Regions from separate parts of the Homo sapiens genome. Here all the other regions are linked to region 3. The links come from fine-mapping of genetic effects on gene expression. A gene starts in region 3. Each other region holds a variant in brackets. All regions are shown on one strand. Distances are from middle to middle.

Region 1 (8,184 bases), 130 kb before region 3:
GTAAGGCTGAAAAGAAAAACCACAATGAGATACCACCTTACTCCTGCAAGAATGGCCATAATTAAAAAGTCAAAAAATAATACATGTTGGCATGCATGTGGTGAAAAAGTAACACTTTTACACTGCTGGTGGCAATGTAAATTAGTATAACCACTATGGAAAACAGTATGGAGAGTCCTTAAAGAACTAAAAGTAGAACTACTGTTTGATCCAGCAATCCCACTACTGGGTATCTACCCCCAAAAAAAGATGTCATTATATGAAAAAGATACATGCACATTCATGTTTATAGCAACAGAATTCACAATTGCAAAGATATGGAACCAACCTAAGTGCCTATAACCAACGAGTGGATAAAGGAAATGTGATACACACACACACACACACACACACACACACACACACATGCACACACACACACACCATGGAATACTACTCAGCCATAAAAAGGAATGAAATAATATCTTTTGCAGCAACTTGGATGGAGCTGGAGGCCATTATTCTAAGTGAAGTAACTCAGGAATGGAAAACCAAATATTGCATGTCATCACTTACAAGTGGGAGCTAAGCTATGAGGACACAAAGCATAAGAATGATATAATGGACTTTTGGAACTCAGGGGCAGGGAAGCTTGTGGGGGGCGGTGAGGGATAAAAGACTACATATCAGGTACACTGCTCAGGTGACAGGTATACCAAAATCTCAGAAATCGCCACTAAAGAACTTATCCCTGTAACCACAAACCATCTGTGCCCCAAAAACTATTGAAATAAAAAATTTTTTTAAAAAAATCACTGTCGGCCGGGCACAGTGGCTCACGCCTGTAATCCCAGCACTTTGGGAGGCCAAGGCGGGCGGATCACGAGGTCAGGAGATCGAGACCATCCTGGCTAACAAGGTGAAACCCTGTCTCTACTAAAAAATACAAAAAATTAGCTGGGTGTAGTGGCGGGCGCCTGTGTTCCTGGCTACTTGGGAGGCTGAGGCAGGAGAATGGCATGGACCTGGGAGGCGGAGCTTGCAATGAGCCGAGATTGCGCCACCGCACTCCAGCCTGGGTGACAGAGCGAGACTCTGTCTCAAAAAAAAAAAAAAAAATCACTGTCATATTAACAACAAAAAAGCAAATAAAACAGTTGATTAGGTTTTTTTTTTTAAAAAAAAAAAGTAAGGCTGAGAGTACAGATTACACCTTGGAGAGCAACCTCAAGTTTTAAGAAATGCCAAAGTAGTGGCATATCCAGGACACCAAATTATTAAATTGTTCAAAGTTATCTTGGCATTATTCTAGGTTTAGAAAAATCATAAAAAGTATTATTTTTAACTTAACAATAAATTAGCAATGGGAGTAATGGACCCCAAATTACCTCTTCTGTAGCTGTTCATCAGACAGTTGCAGCTCCTCCTTTAAACGCATATACCTGTCTTCTCTCAGCAGCCTAGAACCATCATAGAGGCTTAGCTCTCGATCATGGATTAACCTAACAAGATAAGAAAAAAGCCCGAAAATAAATTAATGTGTTTTGAACACTGAAGTTTTCAGAGGCAGAATCAGTCAGCCAACAGTCTATTATTGCTGGCAATTGAGTCTAATAATTTTGTTAGATGGACCTTTCAAAATTTCAAATTGGCTACTGCTGTTACACTTCGCAAAACTGTTGGTTTCTGTACTGGAGGGCAGTAGTCATAAATATTTGATAGGGATATGAAAGAGGGGGAGGAGGAGGAAAAAAGAAAAGAGGAGGAGGAAGGAGAGCAAAAGAAACAGCTGAATGAGTATCTCAAGATAACCACAAGGTACATATTAATAAACAAGGCAGGTGGCACTTACTCTCTTCGGTCTAAAGTAACTCTGTAAGGGTTGGCATAAAAATATTTCTATCTTTGGAATTACAAGATTTAAAAATACAAAAATCTTATAATGAAATAACTACATTGCTCTACATATGGCAACTCTGAAGGTGACCTAACCATCCACATCACACATAGCATAGTCTTCCAGATGTTGCAATGGCTGAAAAGCACTGTTCTATATCTCACACCAACCCCTAAGTCTCCTAATGCCCACAATAGAGTTAGCCTACATAGCCTCCATTCTATAAGCACTGAAGGGAGGGGATGCTGTGTAATGCAGGGGATAGGAGCATGGCCGGTGGAACCAATCAGACCTGGGTTCAACTCCAGCTGTGCACCTTACTAGCTGAATGAGTGGGGAGAGGGAGAACGACTCTATCTCTCTAAACTCTCGTCTTCCATAACGTTAAGGCAACAGTCACAACTTCACAATATTAATGTGAAAACTAAACAGCTAATGTAAAATGGATGCTTATAGCTGTTCTCAATCTTGACTGTACGTTAGAATCTTCTGGGAAGTGTTTAAAAATGCCAATGTTCAGACCTTGGCCTAGACCAATTATATCAGAAAATTCTGATGGTGAAGCCCAGGCATGAGTTTTTTTTTTTTTTTTTTTTTTTGAGACAGAGTCTCCCTCTCGTCACCCAGGCTGCAGTGCAGTGGCGCGATCTAGGCTCACTGCAACCTCCGCCTCCTGGGTTCAAGCTATTCTCCTGCCTTAGCCTCCTGAGTAGCTGGGATTACAGGTGCATGCCTCCATGCCCAGATAATTTTTGTACTTTTAATAGAGACGGGGTTTCACCATGTTGACGAGGCTGGTCTCAAACTTCTGACCTCAGGTGATCCGCCCACCTCGGTCTCCCAAAATGCTGGGACTACAGGTGTGAGCTACTGCACCTGGCCCGCATCAGCATTTTTTTTTTCTTTTTTTTTGAGACAGAGTCTCGCTCTGTCACCAGGCTGGAGTGCAGTGGCGCCATCTCGGCTCACTGCAACCTCCACCTCCCGGGTTCAAGCAATTCTCCTGCCTCAGCCTCCTGAGTAGCTGGGACTACAGGCACATGCCACCACTCCCAGTCCATTTTTGTATTTTTAGTAGAGAAAAGGTTTCACCATCTTAGCCAGGATGATCTCAATCTCTTGACCTCGTGATCTGCCCACCTCGGCCTCCCAAAGCACTGGGATGATAGGCGTGAGCCACTACACCTGGCCGGCATCAGTATTTTTTAATTGCCACCCTGCAAGGTGATTCCAAGGTTGAGAACCTGAGAAGCACTGGCTTAGCACAATGCACAGAGTAGGTACTCAATTAATGGTAGTAGCTGCTTCTATTATTACTACTTGCAAACATGCAAGAGATAGCTAATAAAATGGGACTATTACCGTGTCTGCAGTGGTCTGGGAGAAAAAAATATTGTAAATCTATGGAACGTTTATGGTAAATCACTGAAAGTTTGTGACTATTTTTAAATGTTCTAAAATCTAATCAGGATTAACATAACGTATTTAGAATTTTTAATTACATTCAGTATCTGCATCACATCAAGAAAAAAAAAACTCTAAGTGGTTAGTTGGATAATGGCTTATTCTACTTATTTAACCTTTCCTAATGAGTCACAGTTAAAAATCAAATGTCTACAAGTTAGAGAACCAAAATAAACAGAAAATATCAGTATCATTAATCTCCTAAAATGATACAAGATGGGAATATTTTCTACAAAAGTTACACAC[G/A]AAGAGCCTTCTCTTAACATTAAATTCTAGAGAAGTTTTAGGAATGTGTGGAAATTTTTCCCAACTAAACCAAAATAAGAAAACAATAGTTATAGAAATGTTCAAGTTTATAATTAACAAAGTGAGCTTTTTTAGTCTATATAAAATATAATTTAAAGCTATTATATATTTTACAAACAAAACTACTTTTCTCTCTCTCAAAAAAAAAAGATTCCAACAAGACCAACCAATAATTAAGATCTATGATTGATAAGGAGTGTGTAAATACTGAAGCTGTGACTCTGACAAATTATAGAAACTTCAGCAATGTGACATGCTGCATATATAGACCTGTATATATAAAGTTTTTCAAACTTACTACTGAAGCACTTTCTTTTTGCAGTGCCTACACACGGAATTCTGCTACAGGAGTGGCTTTTCCCAAAATGTTCATTATTTGGAGTTTTACTGCATTGTGTTTATAACAATAAAAAAGTGCCATTCTACTTGGTATAGAATCATGATTTTTCAGGATCTACACAACCCAGTTTAAAAAAAAGAAAAAGAATGAGATAGTTCCATCTTTACTGCTTAAGTCAGAGTGGGGTGTGTGTCTGTGTGTGATTTTTGTGACTCATACCCACCTTTGCAATACAGCAAGCGTGCCCGCATTCACCCGGTGAATGCCATCCAGCAGGACCAGCTTGCCTTCCAGAGCAGCATTCACAAGGGGTGAGGACCGCCAGGCAGTGTCTCCATTTGGAAGGGTGTATCTCTGCTGTAGCAGATCACGCGCTGTCATATCCTAAAACAAATCCCCACCACCCAACAAAGAACATGACGAATTAATTTTTAAGACATGCAAGGTAGCTTACATGGCTTTATAGAGTCACCTCCGTCTGAACTTAACATTCCATATAGTAACAGAGAAGTCATCTTCTCCAATTCCTAAAACGAAAGCTCTTCAGAAAGCTTTTTTTTGGTCATTTTAGGATTTTTTTCCATTACTCATTACATAATATAGTAAGAGTGAGAGGTTTTTTTCCCTACTTTATATTTAGCATTTTCTTCCGCTTTTAAAATGTTCGTTTACATAATGGCAGTAATTTCCACCTGAATAACAGAATTTAACTCAATCAGCTCTATTCCTGTGTTTTCATATGCCAACTTTTATGGTGACCTAACCATCCATGTGTTGACTCAATTTTAAAATGAGAGATCATGCAAACTCAACATGCAGAGATGTTTATCAATAATGTGCATTTTCTAGCAGTTGATGAGTTTTCCTGAAAAGCTATGCTAGGACCATCACAATGACTCATTTTATTTAAAGAGGCTTGATAATGGAGGAAATTGAAGAGGACAGTCATCAGATGAGGTACAGGAATTGGGAAACAATAGCATAGCACTTAAAAGCAATTTTTAAAAGCACACACACAATGTGCTAACAATAAAATAGTGTAACAGACTTAAGCAAACTATTAATAGTTGTGGCATATAAAAGTTTATCTACTGTAAAAAACTGGAGCTATATAATATGAACAATTTTTTCTTACATGTGCTAATGTGGATAGTTTCTTTTCTATCACCTTCAGATACATTTTGTGCGACTTATAGCAAAGAAAAGTTAAACACATTTACAGTCATTTTTATCCAAATATTTAAAGTCTTCTGTAAATTCTTGGCTACACACTCCCAACTTTCAGCAGATAGAAAACTAATGAATTTGCTTTATATTCATAATGGCAATGAATCTGTATTGAAACCAAGATTAAAATTTAAGTCTTAATTGTTTCAATCTTCTCACTATCAAGAAAGTACTGACTAAATGGCTATTACTAAAAATTCAAAAAAATAACAGATGCTGGCAAGGTTCTGTAGAAACAGGAACATTTTTACACTGTTGGGAGTGTAAATTAGTTCAACCATTGTGGAAGACAGTGTGGCAATTCCTCAAAGACCTAGAGGCAGAAATACCATTCAAGCCAGCAATCCCATTACTGAGTATATACCCCAAGGGATATAAATCATTCTATTATAAAGATACATACATGCGTATGTTCACTGCAGCACTGTTCACAAGAGCAAAGACATGGAATCAACCTAAATGCCCATCAATGATAGACTGGATAAAGAAAATGTGGTACATACACACCGTGGAATACTATGCAGCCATAAAAAGGAACTAGATCATGTCCTTTGCAGGGACATGGATGCAGCTAGAGGCCATTATTCTTAGCAAACTAACCCAGGAACAGAAAACCAAATACCACGTGTTCTCACTTATAAGTGGAAGTTGAATGATGAGAACACATGCACACATGGTGGGGAACAACACACACTGGGGCCTGTCAGAGGGTGAGAGGAGGGAGGAGGGATAGCATCAGGAAGAACAGCTAATGGATGATGGGCTTAATACCTGGGTGATGGGATGATCTATGCAGCAAACCACCATGGCACACGTTTACCCATGTAACAAACCTGCACATCCTGCACATGTACCTCTGAACTCAAAATAAAAGTTGGAAATTTTAAAAAGAGAAAGTACTGACTTAGGAAGTATGAATAGGCTCATTTTGAATCATAAAGACCTTTGAAAAACAGTAACATTCAAACTCAGCAACTTCCCATAAACTTAAAAGGCTGGTTTTGACACATTGTCAAAATTTGTTCTTTTTAAATAACTTTATTTAATTCTTCAACTATGAATTCTAAATTATATGCAAATTATATGAGCAATATCACTCTCTTGATGCCAATGACAGTTATAACAACCAAGACTAAATTGATCACCATCATCCGTGTTTACTGAGACAGTCACGACATTCCTCATTTTTCCTGGGCCCAAGCAAAAGATTCATTCCCACTCATGCTTATGCTACAGAACACCAAAGGGATCGCTCTCTAGAACAGGACAAAATCAAAATAAGTGTCTGTGGGTCATTTTTATAGTCAAACTATGAAAAAAAATCAAATATTACATATGCATATACATGTGCATATAAATATATATGTGTCTGTATATATATGTATGTATACAAATACATACAAACACACAGAATTTTTTAAAGTAAATATAAAAACAGATAAATTTAAAGAAAACTCCTGGTATGAATCATTCCAGAAAAATATTTGCCATAGAGTTACATCACACATTACCTTGGAAAAGTAAAAAAAGAAACAGAAAACACAGTTTAGCGCAGTGGTTCAAAATTAAAGATACATTATCAGAAACAGGTGGGGAACTTTTGAAACATATATAAACTTAAGCTCCACTATCCTGAAGATTCTGATTCATCAGGGCCAACATGGGGCCTACCATCTGTTTTTTATTAAACATTACATAGATGATTCTGATATGCCTCCCACGTGGGAAACACTGCTTAAAAAGATATTAAATTAAAATTCACTTATCTATACCCTTCCTTGTTCTAATATGATGTGAGATTGCAAAAGATATACAAAATGCACAACAAAATAACATAAATTAAAAGTAAAGTTAAAAATAAGAGAAAAAAAGAGTAGGCTTTGTCTATTTTAAGCATTCCTATTGGAATTCAGAGAGGAGATGGCAGGATGAAGGCATTCAACTAATATCATACTTTCAAAGAAACTGATGGATGTTAATTTTGAAAATCACAGCTTCAGACTGAAAACAGCTGATATCCTGGCCCAATTAAGGTTAGGAGTCTTTTGCTTGGGCCCAGGAAAAGATGAGGAATGTCGTGACTTCAGCAGACATAAGAGGCTCAGACTCCTAAAAAGCTGAAGCTAAAAACTGGTAACATTTTTTTTTTAATTTCAATAGAAAGAATTCCTCATTCTTATACCAACATATCTGAATCACCATTCTGTGCATGATATAAAAAAGCACTATTTCATTTGGTTATGATTCCAAAGTATTTTTTATCTTATTAATTCACAGGATGTGTACAGTACTTACCTTATTCAAGTAAGTAAACATTTATACTAACAGAGATGATGAAAAAGACAACTAGTACATAGGGCTCTTCTTTTACAATCTAGTAGTTGGAGACTCGCTTACATTTGCTAAAGTAAAATGAATGATTATTTTTTGCTACACAATATGCAGCAGCAGATCAATATAGCTCACCGCTATAAATGCCAACCAAAGCTATAGACCAGAAATGTTCTTCCTCTTTTCAATCTTCGGAGGGATAGAACATGGGAAATACTTGATATTTCTTAGAAGACTAGCTCAGTTAAATTTTATCACCTAAACTCTGTATACCATCATATTAGAAAGAGCCATTCTTCATTTTTAATAAACACACACGTGCAGATAGATGATAGATAGATAGATAGATAGATAGATAGATAGATAGATAGATAGAGATTTTTAAAAAATATTTTGTAGAGACAAGTTCTCACTCTGTTGTCCAGTCTGGTCTTGAACTCCTGGCCTCCAGCAATCCTCACACTTCAGCCTCCCAAAGTGGCAAGATTACAGGTATGAGCCACTGCCAATTTCTAATAAACCTTTGCATCAAAATAAAAACCTTCCTAAGAGAAAGAAAAGCACTCCCTTTAATATAAGCTATTGGTTTTCATAATTAACAACTTCTATTGAAAGACAAACATTTCAGCTTTTCCTTAAA
Region 2 (8,184 bases), 150 kb before region 3:
ACAATTTTCTCATTTATAAAATACCTCTGAAAATTATTGAATGTCTAAATAAGATAATATATTAATGGAATGAAAGTAGACCAAGATGGCTGAATAGAACCCTCCAGTAATTGTCCTCCCCTCCACAGGAACACCAAATTAACAACTATCCACATAAGAAAGCACCTTCATAAGAACCAAAAACCAGGTGAGCAATCACAGTACCTGGTTTCAACATCATATGAAGGAAGGAGGCACTGAAGGGAGTAGGAAAGACAGTCTTGAATTGCCTACACCACCTCTTCCCCATCCCCTAGTGGTGCTACATAGCTTGGAGAAAGAATCTGTGTGCTTGGGAGAGAAAGAGCATATTGATTGTGGTATTTTGCATTGGAATTCAGTGCTACCCTGTCACAGTGGAGAGCAACAGGGTAGCATTTTGATCAGCCCTAGCTAGAGGGGAATAATCATTCATCCCAGGGGTCAGAACCTGAATTCTAACTAGCCCCACCACCACAGGCTAAAGTGCTCTGTGTTCTAAATAAACTTGAAAGGCTGTCTAGGCCACAGGAATACAATTCCTGGGCAAGTCCTGGTGCTATGCTGAGTCGGTAGAGTTGGAGTGCATGTGACCCAGTCAGACACCAGTGCGGACAGCCAAGGCAGTGCTTGCACTGTCCCTTCCTCAACTCCAGGCAGCACAGCTTGCAGCTCTGGCAGAGATTCCTTCCACTGAAGGAAAGGAGAGGGGAGAGCAAAGAGGACTTTGTCTTACAATTTGGGTACCAGCTCAGCCAAAGTAAAATAAAGCACTAAACAAATTGCTAAAGTCCCCAATTCCAGGACTTAGCTCCTGGATGACATTTTGACACCCACCCTGGGCCAGAAGGGAACCCACTGCCCTGAAGGGAGATTCCCAGGCCTAGCAGGATGAATCACAACCTGACTAAAGAATAGTTGGGCCATGAATAAACATAAGTGGTAGCCAGACAATACTCACCACAAGCCTTGGGCAAGACCCTGTATTGTGCTGGTTTCAAGTCTGACCCAGCACAATCCCAGTGGTGATGGCCATCCCTCTCCCAACTCCAGACAGCTGAGCATGGAGAGAGAGATTCCATTTGTTTGAGGGAAAGTAAGTGAAGAGAGCAAGAGTCTCTGTCTAGCAGTCCAAGGAATTCTCCTGGTTACCCAAGACCACCAATGTGGTATCTCTATGAGTCTGCAAGAATCACAGCATTACAGGGCATGGAGTGTTCCCTAATGCAGGTATGGCTGCAGTGACCAGAATTAGATCACACACTCAATTCTCTTTGAATACTTGGAAATCTTTCCCAAGAAGGACATGTACAAACAAGCCCAGGCAAGGAAGACTACAATAAATACTCAACTCTTCAATGCCCAGACAACAATGAACATCCACAGGCATCAAGACCATCCAGGAAAACATGACCTTACCAAACAATCAAATAAGGCACCGGTGACCAATCTCAGAGAGACAGAGATATATGACTGTATTAGTCCATTTTCACACTGTTGATAAAGACATACCTGAGACTGGGAAATTTACAAAAGAAAGAGGTTTAATGGACTCACAGTTCCATGTGGGTGGGGAGGCCTCACAATCATGGCAGAAAGTGAAAGCACGTCTCACATGGCAGCAGACAAAAGAAGAGAACTTGTGCAGGGAAACTCCCCTTTATAAAACCACCAGTTCTCATGAGACTTATTCACTATTACAAGAATTGCATGGGAAAGATCCGCCCCCGTGATTAATTATCTCCTACCAGGTCTCTCCCACAATTTGTGGGAATTATGGGAGCTACAATTCAAGATGAGATTTGGGTGGGGACACAGCCAAACCACATCAGTGACCTTAAAGAAAGAATGGAAAATAGCTATTTTGAGGAAGCTCAATGAAATTCAAGATAACACAGAGAAGGAATTCAGAATTCTATCAGATAAATGTAACAAAGAAATTGAAATAATTTTTAAAAATCAAGTAAAAATTCTGGAGCTGAAAAATTCAATTGAAATACTGAAGAATACATCAGTCTGTCAACAGCAAAATTGATCAAGCAAAAGAAACAATTAGTAAGCTTGAAGACAGGCTATTTGAAAACACACAGTCAGAGGAGACAAAAGAATAAAACAATCAAAAAGAATAAAACATGACTACAAGATCTAGAAAATGGCCTAAAAAGGGCAAATCTAATAGTAAATGGCCTTAAAGAGGAGGTAGAGAGAGATCAGGGTAGAAGACTTATTCAAAGGCATAATAACAGAGAACTTCCCAAACCTAGAGAAAGACATCAATATTCCAGTACAACAAGGTTATAGAACACCAGGCAAATTTAACTCAAAAAAGACAACCTCAAGATATCTGAGGTACCTAAAAGCAGGAAGAGAAAAGAAACAAACAACATATAATGGAGCTTCACTAGGTTTGGCAGCTGACTTCTGAGTGGAAACTTTACAGGCCAGTAGAGAGTAGCATGATACATTTAAAGTGCTGAAGGAAAAAGCTTTTATCCTAAAATAGAATAACCAGCAAAAATATCCTTCAAACATGAAGGAGAAATATAGACTTTCCCAGACAAACAAAAGTGGACGGATTTAATAAATGTCACACTTGTCCTACAAGGGAAAAAAAAAGGAATTAAAAAATTAATTTAAAAATTAAAAAAAAATTAATGAGCAGTAAGAAATATCTGAAGCCTCAAAATTCACTGGTAATAGTAAGTATACAGAAAAAGACAGAATGTCATAACATTTATTTGTAGTATGTAAACTACTTATAACTTGAGTATAAAGATTAAAGATGACTGAACAAAAATAATAACTACAACAGCTTCTCAAGACATAGATAGTACAATAAGATATAAGCAGTAACAACAAAAAGTGAAAAAGTGGGTGGACAAAGTTAGAGTGTAGAGTTTTTATTAGTTTTCTCTTTATTTACACAATCAGTATTAAGTTGTCATCAGTTTAAAATAACGAGTTATAAGGCATTATATGCAAGCCTCATGGTAACCTCGAACCAAAAAATCCAAATATACAGCAAATGAAAAGCAAGAAATTAAAACACACCACCTGAGAAAATCACTTTCACTAAAGGAAGACAGAAAGTAAGGCAAGAAGAAAGAGAAGACCATAAAGCAACCTAAAAACAAACAACAAAATGGCAAGAATAATTCCTTACTCATCAATAACATGGAATGTAAATGGACTAAACTTTCCAGTCAAAAGACAGAGTAGCAAAATGGATTTTTAAAAATGAGACTCAATGATCTGTTGTCTTCAAGAAACACACTTCACATATGAAGATACACAGACTGAAAATAAAGGGACAGAAAAAAATATTCCATGCCAAATGAAACAAACAAACAAAAGAAAAACCAGGAGTCACTATAATTATATCAGACAAAATAGACTTCAAGACAAAAACTATAAGAAGAGACTAAGAAGACTGCTATACAATGATAAAAGGGTCAATTCAGCAAGAGCATATAACAATTTTAAATATATATGCACCCAATACTAGAGCACCCAAATATATAAAAGCAAATATTTTTGAGCAAAAGAGAGAGATAAACCCCAATACAATAATAGCTGGAGACTTCAACATTGGACAGATCACCCAGACAGAAAATCAACGAAGAAATATTGGACATGGCTGGGTGCGGTGGCTCATGCCTGTAATCCCAGCACTTTGGGAGGCTGAGATGGGCAGATCACCTGAGGTTGGGAGTTTGAAACTAGTCTGACCAACATGGAGAAACCCCATCTCTACTAAAAATACAAAAATTAGCTGGTCATGGTGGTGCACGCCTGTAATCCCAACTACTTGGGAGGCTGAGGCAGGAGAATCGCTTGAACCTGGGAGGCGGAGGTTGCAGTGAGCCAAGATTGCGCCATTGCACTCCAGCCTAGGTAATAAGAGCAAAACTTCATCTCAAAAAAAAAGAAAAAGAAAAAAAGAAATGTTGGACTTAATCTGCACTACAGACCAAACTGACCTGCCGGTATTTACAGAACATGTGATCCAACGGCTGCAGAATACACATTCTTCTCAGCACATGGATCATTCTCAAGGAGAGACCATATATTAGGCCACAAAACAAGTCTTAAAAAATTCAAAAA[T/TAA]AAAAAAAAAAAAAAAAGAAATGATGTCAAGTATCTTCTGTGACCACAATGGAATAAAACTAGAAATCAGTAACTGGAGGAATTTTGGAAACTACACAAATACATGGAAACTAAACAATAGGCTCCTGAATGACCAGTGAGTCAATGAAGAAATTAAGAAGAAAACTGAAAAATTTATTGAAACAAATGAAAATGGAAACACACCAATCCTATAGGATATAGCGAAAACAGTATAATAAAAGAAAAGTCTATAGCCATAAAAGCCTACATCAAAAAAGTAGAAAAACTTCAAATAACCTAACAATGTATCTTGGAAAACTAGAAATGCAGGAGCAAACCAAACCCAAAATTAGTACAAGAAAAGAGATAATAAACATCAGAGCAGAAACAAATAAAATTTAAATTAAACATGCAAAGGATAGGCTGGGCGCAGTGGCTCACGCCTGTAATCCCAGCACTTTGGGAGGCTGAGGCCAGCGGATCACAAGGTCAGGAGATCGAGACCATCCTGGCCAATATGGTGAAACCCCATCTCTACTAAAAATGCAAAAAATTAGCTGGGCATGGTGGCACGTGCCTGTAGTCCCAGCTGCTTGGGAGGCTGAGGCAGAAGAACAGCTTAAATCTGGGAGGCAGAGGTTGCAGTGAGCCAAGATCATGCCACTGCACTCCAGCCTGGGCAACAGAGCAAGCCTCTGTCTCAAAAAAAAGAAAAAAAACTACAAAAATTAGCTGAGTGTGGTGGCACATGCCTGAAATCCCAGCTACTCAGGAGGCAGAGGCAGGAGAATTGCTTGATCCCTGGAAGGGGAGATTGCAGTGAGCTGAGGTCGTGCCACTGCACTCCAGTCTGGCAACAGAGTGAGACTCCATCTCAAAAAAAAAAAAAAGGAAAAGATTAATGAAATGAAAAGTTAGTTTTTTGCAAAGATAAAATTGACAAACCTTTACTCCAACTAAGAAAAAGGAAGATTCAAATAAATAAAATCAGAGATGAAAAAGGAGACGTTAGAACTGTTACCACAGAAATACAAAGGATCATTAGAAGCTACCATGAGAAACTATATGCCAACACATCGGAACACCAAGAAGAAACGGAGAAATTCTTAAACACACACAACCTCTCAAGATTGAACTACGAAGAAATAGAAAATGTGAACAAACCAATAACAAGTAACGAGATTGACACCATAACAAAAAGTCTTCAGCAAAGAAAAGCCTGGGCCCTGATCGCTTGCCTGCTGAATTTGACCAAACATTTATAGAAGAACTAATACCAATCCTACTGAAACCATTCTGAAAAATAGAGGAGGAGGGAATATTTCCAAACTTGTTCTACAAGGCCACTATTACCCTGATACCAAAACCAGAGAAGACACATCAAAAAAAAAGAAAACTACAGGCCAATATCCTTGACAAATGTTGATGCAAAAATCCTCAATAAAATAGTAGCAAGCCAAACTCAACAACACATTATAAAGATCATTCATCATGACCAAGCGGGATTTATGCCAGGGATGCCAGCATGGTTAAACACATGCATATCAGTCAATGTGATGCATCATATCAACAGAAGGTAAAACAAAAACCATGTGATCACTTCAATTGATGCTGAAAAAGAATTTTATAAAATTCAACATCCCTTCATGATGAAAACCCTCCAAATGATGAGGATAGCTGGGCACAGTGGTGCATGCCTGTAGTCCCAGCTACTCAGGACACTGAGGCAAGAGAATGGCTCGAGCCCAGGCGTTCTGGGTTGTAATGCACTATACTGACTGGGTATCTGCACTAAGTTCAGCATCAATATGGTAATCTCCCAGGAGCGGGGAACCACCAGGTTGCCTAAGGAAGAGTGAACTGGCTCAGGTCAGAAAAAGAGCCAGTCAAAACTCCTGTGTCGATCAGCAGGGAGATCGCGCCTGTGAATAGCCACTGCACTACGATCCGTTGTCTACAACAAGCACACTTCACATATGATGATACATAGACTGAAAATAAAGGGACAGAAAAAAATATTCCATGTCAAATGAAACAAACCAACAAACAAAAAACAGGAGTCACTATACTTATATCAGACAAAATAGACTTCAAGACAAAAACTATACAGCCTGGCAACAAAGTGAGACTCCATATTTAAAATCACTAACAAAATAAAAATAAACTTTTTTAAAAAAACACTGAGTATAGAAGGAACATACCTCAACACAATGAAAGCCATATATGACAGACCTACAGCTAGTATCATACTTGTGTTAGTCCGTTTTTGTACGACTATAAAGAAATATCTGAGACTGAGTAATTCATAAAGAAAAGAACTTTAATTGGCTCATGGTGCTGTACAGGACACATGACGCTGGCATTTTCTTGTCTTATGGGGAGGCTTTAGGAAACTTAAAATCATGGCAGAAGGCAACGGGGGAACAAGCACTTCACATTGTCAGAGCAGGAGAAAGAGAGAGAGGCAGGGAGGTACCACAAACTTTTAAACAACCAGATCTCATGAGAACTCACTCACTGTCATGAGACCATCACCAAGGGGAAATCCACCCCCATGATCCAGTCATCTCCCACCAGGCCCCACCTCCAACACTGGGGATTAGAATTAGACACAAGATTTGGGCAGGGACACAGATCCAACCCATATCAATACTGAATCGGAAAAACTGGAAGCCTTTCCTCTAAGATCTGAAACAAGGCAAGGATACACACTTTCACCTCTGTTATCCAACACAGTAGTGGAAAACCTACCTAGAGCAACTGGATACAAGAGAGAAATGAAAAGTACTCAAACTGGAAAGGAAAAAATTACATTATCCTTGTTTGCAGATGATATGAGCTTATACTTGAAAAAAAAACCTAAAGACTCCAACAGAAACCTATTAGAATTGATCAACAAATTCATTAAAGTTGCAGGACACAAAATCAACATACAAAAATCAGTAGCGCTTCTGTATGTCAAAAGTGAACAATGTGAAAAAGAAATAAAAAAAGTAATCCAATTTACAACAGCTACAAATAAAATAATATATATAAGAATAAACTTAACCAAAGAAGGGAAAGACCCCTACAATGAAAACTATAAAACACTGATGGAGGAAATTGAAGAGGATGCTAAAAAATGGAAAGATATTCCATATTTATGGATTGGAACAATCAATGCTGTTAAAATGTCCATACTACCACAAACAATCTACAGATTAAATGCAATCCCTATCAAAATATTAATGACATTCTTTACAGAAATAGAAAAATAATCCTAAAATTTATATGAAACCACAAAGACCCAGAATAGCCAAAGCCATCTTGAGCAAAAAGAACAAAACTGAACCAATCATATTACCTGACTTCAAATTATACTATAGAGCTATGTAACCAAAACAGCATAGTACTAGCATAACAGATACATAGACCAATGGAACAGAATAGAGAACCCAGAAACAAATCCATACACCTACAGTGAACTCATTCTTGACAAATGTGTCAAGACCATACATTGGGGAAAGGAGAGTTTCTTCAATAAATGGTGCTGGGAAAACTGGATATCCATAAGCAGAAGAATGAAAGTAGACCCTATCTCTTGCCATATACAAAAATCAAATCAAAATGGATTAAGAATTAAATCTAAGACCTCAAACTATGAAACTACTAAAAGAAAGCATTGGAAAAACTCTCCAAGACATTGGTCAGGACAAATATTTCTTAAGTAATTCCCCACAAGCATAGGCAACCAAAGCAAAAATGGGACAAATAGGATCACATTGAGTTAAAAAGCTTCTTGGGCAGCAAAGGAAATTGTCAATGAAGTGAAGAGACAACCCACAGAATGGGAAAAAATATTTGCAAATCATCCATCTGACAAGGGATTGATAAAATATATGAATTTAAACAACTCAGTAGGAAAAAGCCTAATAATCTGATTATACAATGCATGAAAGATCTGAATAGAAATTTCTCAAAAGAAGAGATACAAATGGCACACAGGTATATGAAAAGGTACTCAACATCACTGATGACTAGAGAAATGCAAATCAAAACTATAATGAGGTATCACCTCACCCC
Region 3 (8,184 bases):
TATATGGACAAACATATAAACTTAATAACTACTTTAAACAATCATGTACAATGATATTTATTACCATGTTAATATGTTCACAATAATGGATGTAATAATTATAAAACATACATGATCCCATTTCTTTAAAAAAATGTATCTGTATAAATATACATATCATCCAGGCACAGTGGCTCAAATCTGTAATCCCAGCACTTTGGGAGGCAAAGATGGGCAGATCACTTTAAGTCAGGAGTTCGAGACCAGCCTGGCCAACATGGTGAAACCCCATCTCTACCAAAAATACAAAAATTAGCTGGGGTGGCTCATATGGTTTGCCTGTGTCCGACCCAAATCTTGTCTTGAATTCTAGCTCCCATAATCCCCATGTGTCATGGGAGGGACCCAGTGGGAGGTAATTGAATCATGGGGGCAGGTTTTTCCTGTGCTGTTCTCGTGGTAGTGAAAAAGTCTCACGAGGTCTGATGGTTCTATAAAGGGGAGTTTCTGTACACAAGCTCTCTTACTTGCCGCTATGTAAGACGTGACTTTTCTCCTCCTTCGCCTTCCACAATGATTGTGAGGCCTACCCAGCCATGCGAAACTATTGAGTCCATGAAACCTCTTTTTCTTCATAAATTACCCAGTCTCTGGCATGTCCTTATAGCAGTGTGAGAACAGATTAATACAGTGGTGCACACCTGTAGTCCCAGCTACTTGGGAGGCTGAAGCAGGAGAATCGCTTGAACCCAGGAGGTGGAGGTTGCAGTAAGCCAAGACTGCTCCACTGCACTCCAGCCTGGGTGCCACAGCAAGACTCCATCTCAAAAATAAATAAATAAATAATTATACATATATATGTAATCTGATAGGATTAATGCTAAAAAGTTGATAATTATAAATTTGGGTGGGAGGATCATGTTTTAGGGAATCTGTACTTATCACTCTTCTATAATAAACATAGATTGCTGTGTAAAAGTATTTTAGGGTATTTCTATAAACAAATTTACTTCATATACAAGAGTCATAAAGAAAAAACTGTGAATCCCTTTAATAATAATGGCGTTAAAGGAAAGCACCAAAATGTCATGATATATTTATACAGTTATGTTTCTAGGTTTATCATTTGATCTATAGTATATTTGAATCCATTTAACATCAGAGTCCCACTGAAACAACTTGCTTGGCTCCATCTGTAAAAACACTACAATAATCTTTATTGAAAACTCTCTGCAGTAGATATCCTTGTTAACCTCTTTGCTCTTAAAACCAAGAGACAGTAATTTTAATGGAAGTATAAAGAGATATAAAGAATTTACAATTATAGATACTTATACTATCTGACAGCACAGGATAAAAAGCAGTGGGTTTGGGTTGAGTTTATCTGCTTGTTTTGTTTTTAACATAAATGACCTATTTTCCTTCTGCTTATCAGGCTTAACAAAGGTCCTCTCTTGAGAGCAAACGACAATTCCAGCCTCTCCTGCTCCTTCTCTGTATGAACTTTCACAAAATAAGCCACTGAATGCTTACTAGGTACAAAGTGTTGGCAGGCACCAAACGAATATATAGATAAACAAAACAAATACTCCAGGAGAAATAACAGCAGTATATAACTTAAATATATTATTTATGAACTTTGTTGTTCTTTTTTCAAACTATTAGGAAGCAATGTCAATTACAGAGAGAGGAGATAATCAGTTACTGGTCACATGTATGAATGCAGCTGAGAGCATCATCCCAACATAAGATGTAATCCATTATGGCCTATTGCTATTTGTAGTTTTACACTTGTCCATGTATGATCTCTGATTCAAAATGGGACACTTCCATCTTGATAGCCTTACTCTCAGGCCTCAGAGTAGCCAAAAGTGTGCTGTCCATTTACCTGGCTCACAACTGCTCTTACTCAAGTCCAGATCTCTGGTGGGTTCCCAGCTGCATTCAGTTACAGTTCTCACACCCTCAAAAAATACCTCTTTTTGGTCTGATCCTGCCAGAGTAAATGACTGATTTAAAGAAGATAGTATGTTCTCTGTAATATGTCCATGACTCTCACATTTGAAGCAAAGCCTATACTTTGATTTACTGGCTATAACAAAATTTGAGGACATTTACAACTTATCTACCAATACGTATATAATACAGACTTTAAAAACTCACACCCACATGTGTTTTTACAATCAACATGTATTATCCATGTACAAAGAACAATTGTTTTTTAAAAAGTTCAAGTCAATTCACTCGGCTAAATCTGCCTACCCAGATAGTCTGAACAGTCCTGAATCTAAACAAACTTGGTTTCATGTCTTCTAAAGGCAAGGAAACAGAATAATTCTCAAATAGCTAAAACTGTACATACTAAGAATAAAAAAGCTAACTTTTATTGAGCATTAATATGTGCCACAGATTATATTAATTAATAAATCCTCACAACAACCATAATAGATATATTCTTCTTATCCTTTTACAGTTAAGAAAACTAGGACACAAAGTTAAGTAACCTACCCTCAACGACCCATGGTTAGATAGTGGATAAGTGGATTCCAACCCAAATTGTTTAACTCCAAAACCCAACCTATAGTTTATGCTATACTTCCACCTTTGACCTCTGCCTTCTAGGGCAAAGGAGCAAAAAACAAATAAAGAACACACAAAAAATGTAAAAAACAAATGAATAAACAGCCCAGAAGTGAGAGTAATTGAGAAAAAGCAAAAAAAAAAAAAAAAACAAAAAGTAAAATTTGAAATTGCAACACTATGGTGGGGGACGGGGGTGGTGTATGTCTTCAATGAATAAAACGAAATACGTGGGACCTAAATATGCTTTTTTTTTTTTTTTTTTTGAGATGGAGTCTTGCTCTGTCGCCCAGGCCGGAGTGCAGTGGCTCCGGTCACTCCAAGCTCCGCCTCCCGGGTTCACGCCATTCTTCTGCCTCAGCCTCCGGAGTAGCTGGGATTACTGGCGCCCGCCACCACGCCCGGCTAATTTTTCTGTATTTTCTTTTTAGTAGACACGGGGGTTTCACCGTGTTAGCCAGGATGGTCTCGATCTCCTGACCCCGTGATCCGCCCGCCTCAGCCTCCCAAAGTGCTGGGATTACAGGCGTGAGCCACCGCGCCCGGCCCATATGCTCATTTCTTAGCAAGGAAAACTGGGGGTTGCGGGGAAAATGCAAGAGGACAACGAAACCTACAATTTCATAGTGAAAACCTGTTATTCCAAGCAGCACTGACATTGACAAAATCTTGTCTGGAATCACTTCACCATTCAAGGGTAGCAACAACAGATATCCTTTCCTTAACCATCACAGTAACTCTAACTCCACCAACACACAAGAAAAAGAATTCCTAAAACCAGCTCAAGTAGAGCCAAAAAATACTGAGCTTAGAAATCAAAGCATGTGATTCTAGCATAGTAATTAGTTGTGTGTTCTCCAGCGAATCACTTTTCCCTTCTGGGTTTCAATTACCTCATTTGTAGAGGCAAGTGTTTTAACTAAATTAAGGTGTAACTGTCAGCTCTAAGAATTACGTGAAACTTTAAGGAAAACTCCTGTAAAACTTGGAAAGGCTCGGGGATGCATTTAAAACACCGTGAACTATGGGTTCTTTGGCAAGAATGTTCCCTTCTAAGCCGCCACAAGCCCTGGCTAGAACATGACACAGACCGGCTTCCAGGCCCTTGAGGCTCAGAGAGCAAGGTCAAATCCAGCTTTCAATAATTCCATAGGGCTGAGGCATTAACCTCTACGAGTATTATAACCTAAGTCAGAATTCTGGGGGTAAAGGCAGCGGCAGGGGAAGGAGAAATCACTCTTCTAGGTCATCAGAAACCTTAGTCCAGACCCCTCGGGTTGCAGAATCAGGCACAGAGAGGGCGAGCGCCTTGCCCCCACGTTACACAGCAGTTAGCGCCGAGGTCGGGACTAGAACCTCAATCTTTCAGCTCCCCGCTCGGCAAACGGTCCTTCCAAGCGCAGCGAAGCAACAGAGAGGAGGGGCGGGGGCGCGCGGGGACCCGGCACGGAGCGCAGGGGCACCAGGGAGGACAGGGGCGCACCCCGAGTTACCTGTGTCGGCCCCCGAGCCGGCGTGCAACAGTCTGACCTCCGGCCGCTGCCTGTCGCCACCCGGCCTGCGCTGCACCACCTGCCGCAGGAGCAGCCGCATGCGCCGCGAGGCCGGGCCGCCGTGGCCTCCGGGTGCCCCGAGGAGTAGAAGCCGGGATTGCATGGCGCCGGGGGGGCTGTCGGGGACGGCGAGGGGGCTCGGGGATCGAGCGGCGTCCCGTGCAGGCACCGTGAGGCAGCGCGGAGAAGGGGACAGGAAGCGGCACCTAGCCGAGTCCGCCGGAAACTCCTTCCCCCGCGGCGCGGCCGGCTCAGTAGACTCAGCCCGGCCCTACCCGGCCCTGCATGGCCCAGACGGGCGGAAAGAGCCTGCGGAGCTCCAGCCCAAAGAGCCGGCACCGTCCCGGGACTGCCCGCACCGCGGGGGTGCTCCGAGCTGCGGCGCTGGGCTCTGGCAAGCGCCTCGCAGTCCGTGAGACTGTCTGTTCACCTGGATGCACCAGGCCTTCACCCGCCGTTTCCCTGCGATCCCACAGAATCTCAGGAGTTCAGTAAATGCCAAGGGTTTTAGGAGCATTTGTCGGTGTGACTCTTCAGATGCTTGCCCCAAGTCTTCGTTTCTTAGTTAAAGGCCCAGTAAGTATAGGGAGCTTTCCCTGTATTCGGCTTCAGATTTCGGAAATGGAGAAAACATGCACAAGATGATGGGAACTTTCACAACTGTCTTGATTCATTGTAACCACACTAGTGTTTCCAAACCGTACGTGAAAGCTTTACCCTTTGTCCTTTTGGTGGTGGTTGTTTGTTTCTGTGTTTTATTACCGCTTCCTAAATTCTAAGGAAAAAATTCACATCTTAGTGATAGATGGAAATTGCTTAAATATCAGAAAGGATCCAGATCAAGCACTTTTCTAGTCATGCTGTAATACAAAAGTTATATAAAGATGATTTATGTCTTTAGTAAAGGAAAAAGTAGGACACTGGCTAAGGCTGCCTCCCTCTTGTACATTCCAACATCGGAAATGGTCCTACCACAAAGCAAACTAAGCCTAATGTAATTAGACTGCATCCCCAAAATGTCACAGTGAATTGACTAAGGCAAAATATTTGAGACAAGTTATACAAGCAAACATCAAAAAGAAGGCAGAAGACCTCACTTTCAGCTAAAGACCTTGCTAATTCTAGAGCTGCCACTGTCTAAATACATAGCACCTACCCTGCGCCTGACCCTGTGATGAGTGCTGAGAAGAGAGTGTTAGAGTGGAGACTGTAAAAGTCAAACAAGGCTAGGTAAGGAAGGCTTTGGGCATCCAGCGGAAGAACTTGAGGAATGAAGGCTGAACCAGGCTTCTAACCTAGATGAGGAGACAGTGAAAATAAAGGTAATAAGTAGTTACACAATATATTATGACTTCGTTTCATGTGTATCTTCTCATTTAATCCTCATAGCAACCCTAAGACATAAATTTAGGATGTAAGCTTATAAAATGCTTTTCCTACTTTGAGCACATTGTATGTATCAAGATTTTAATGAATTATCCCATTTCACATAAAAATGCTTTGAGGTACTATTATTATCCTCCGTTTTACAGATGAAGAAACTGAGGCTAGAAGAATTGAATACCTTGGTCAAGATATCTCCATTTAATCTCGCTGGAACTCAGTAGACACCTGAAAGAATGGGAGAACAACCTAAGGCAATTTTGCAAAGTGGTTGATATAAGCACTAAGAGCTCTTGGAGTTAAGACAATGGAGAGATCAACACAAGTTAGAGCATTCAACAACATTTTTTGCCTAGTTTTATTTTTTTTAGAGACAAAGTCTCACTCTGTTGCCCAGGCTGGGGTGCAGCGGCAGTATTATAGCTCATTGCAACCTCGAACTCCTGGGCTCGAGTGATCCTCCTGCTTCAGCCTCCCTAGTAGCTGAGACTACAGGCGTGCACCACTGTGCCTGGCTAATTTTTGTGTTTTTGTTTTCGTAGCAGTGGAGTCTTGTTATGTTGCCCAGGCTGGTCTCAAGCTCCTGGCCTCAAGTGATCCTCCTGCCTCAGCCTCCCAACGACAACATTTATTGAGTAACTGCTGTATAAACAGTACCCTGCTAGATACTGTGAATCAATGGGCTCACATTAGGTATTGATGATAAATATGCAAATAAAGAATTGCAATACAGTGAGACACGTGTCAAGAGATTTAGGTTCAACATACTGTGGAGTGGATTGCTGCACCTGGAGTCTTCACAGAGAAGGTAGTGTTTGAAATGATTCATGTAGGATATATTATACAAGAGTTTGTCAGGCTGAGACAAGTCAAATCTGGCAGACAGATCATGTACAGAGAGAGAGAGAAAGAAACAGCTGAAAGTGCAGGGCATGATTGAGAACCAGAGAGTGATTCAGTGTGTCTAGAGGTCAAGTATATACAACAGTTTGTAAGAATAAGACCAGAAAGAGAATCTGGGGCCATGTTGTATGCCAAGAGAAGGAGTTTGCACATTAACCTCCAGGAAATGGAAAAATGGTGAAGGTTTTTTAGAGTGACAAAGCTACAATGGGGAGGAAAACTTTGAGCCTGAGAAAAGGCAGCACCTGAGCTTAACTTTGAATGCCATTTAGGACTGGATACACAGAGAAGCGGGGTATAGAGCCTAAGTAGAGGCTTGGAGTCCTGACAGAGTTCAGTTACAGGGGCCATGAGACCAGCCAGATGAGGAGGTTAATCTTTCGAAAGTAGTAGAAGGTGTTGGCAGAGCAGGAGGAGAAGGTTACAGAGTGAAGAATCTTGAGTAGCTGGATGAAGTTGGACTTCATCCGATGAGCAAACTGGGCAGCTACTGGACTTTTTGATCGTGTTTTAGGTGGTGACATACTATGAATTGAATTAGGAAGACAGGAAGCATCAAGTGCTAGCTACGTGGCAGTAAAAATAGTCTCTACTTGAAATGATGAACAGTGCTGATGGCAATGAGACTGAATGGGAAAGAATGGACCTTCACAATGTTTTTAAAGAAGAACCAAAGGTGTTTTGTTTTAAAAGATGTTCATCACAATCTGTGTAAAGTCTCTCAAACTCTCACTAAAATATCTGATCACATGCTTATTAAAAAACAAGCTACCAGCCGGGCACAGTGGCTCAAACCTATAATCCCAGCACTTTGGGAGGCTGAGATGGGTGGATCACCTGAGGTCAGGAGTTGAGACCAGCCTGGCCAACATGGCAATACCCCATCTCTACTAAAAATACAAAAATTAGCCAGGCGTGATGGTGGGTGCCTGTAATCCCAGCTACTCGGGAGGCAGGGGCAGGAGAATCGCTTGAACCCGGGAAGCAGAGGTTGCAGTGAGCTGAGATCGCACCAGTGCATTCCAGCCCGGGCAACAGAGTGAGACTCTGTCTCAAAAAAAAAAAAAAAAAGAAAAAAGAAAATCACACTACCAAAAGCTAGTATTGACTGTCAAGCTCTTTCCAGAGTTTGGGAGGAATATTTTTTACATACCACATTAATGTAACTTGATGAAAAATGCAACTAATAATCCTTCCATGCTATGTCTGACTGAAAAAAGGTGGGTGCTCCACTCCTCCCTACTGTCTACCCCAGCTAAGAAATCAAAGGTTCATACCACTGGTTCCCAGACTTTTGTGTGCATCCTAATTACCTGGAGAACTTATTAAAATGCAGATTATAGGGTTTCGTTCCTCCCTGCACCCAGAGATTCTGAGTCAATAGGTCTGAAAGGGCCCAAGAATATTCATCTTTAGTAATACCTATAGGAGATCACCCATGTGCCACACATTTCAGTCATGAAGCTGTACAACTGTTCTTTATAGAGAGGGAGGGAAAAAGGAAAATCACAGCCAGGTGCAGTGGCTCACGCCTGTAATCCCAACACTTTGGGAGGCCGAGGCGGGCGGATCACCTGAGGTCAGGAGTTCGAGACCAGCCTAGCTAACATGGAGAAACCCCATTTCTACTAAAAATACAAAAAATTAGCTGGGTGCGGTGATGTGCACCTGTAATCCCAGCTACTCGGGAGGCTGAGGCAGGAGAATCGCTTGAACTCAGGAGGCAGAGATTGCAGTGACCTGAGATCGTGCCATTGCACTCCAACTTGGGCAACAAGAGTAAAAC

Direction of the effects. Positions count from the first base shown, and alleles are read on the strand shown. Sizes are in standard deviations (SD) of each study's normalised expression. Not every link is listed here.
With allele A in place of G in region 1, the expression in nucleus accumbens of the gene that starts at base 4,309 in region 3 is lower (moderate effect, 0.68 SD a copy in GTEx).

The links. PIP is the estimated chance that this variant, and not a neighbour inherited with it, causes the effect.
Region 1: its variant is fine-mapped to the expression of VWA8 in nucleus accumbens (GTEx, PIP 0.99). The same link has a PIP of 0.9 or more in putamen.
Region 2: its variant is fine-mapped to the expression of VWA8 in whole blood (INTERVAL, PIP 0.97).

The regions. Positions count from the first base shown.
Region 1 is chr13:41,829,162-41,837,345 of GRCh38, forward strand. VWA8 (von Willebrand factor A domain containing 8) reads right to left here. Exons shown (of 45, transcript NM_015058.2): 13 at 4,210-4,370; 14 at 1,368-1,481. Among named protein-coding and RNA genes, the nearest start is that of VWA8, 130 kb to the right of the region's middle. The variant G/A (reference allele first, on the strand shown) is at 3,587.
Region 2 is chr13:41,801,879-41,810,062 of GRCh38, forward strand. The region is part of intron 17 of VWA8 (von Willebrand factor A domain containing 8); the gene reads right to left. It also overlaps the pseudogene RN7SL515P. Among named protein-coding and RNA genes, the nearest start is that of VWA8, 160 kb to the right of the region's middle. RefSeq lists an enhancer at 452-1,651. The variant T/TAA (reference allele first, on the strand shown) is at 4,123.
Region 3 is chr13:41,956,801-41,964,984 of GRCh38, forward strand. VWA8 (von Willebrand factor A domain containing 8) reads right to left here and starts at 4,309. Exons shown (of 45, transcript NM_015058.2): 1 at 4,053-4,309. The coding sequence starts at 4,215. It overlaps VWA8-AS1 (VWA8 antisense RNA 1), which reads left to right and starts at 4,369. Exons shown (of 4, transcript NR_039974.1): 1 at 4,369-5,434. RefSeq lists enhancers at 2,542-3,042, 3,043-3,543, 3,639-3,778 and a silencer at 3,979-4,388.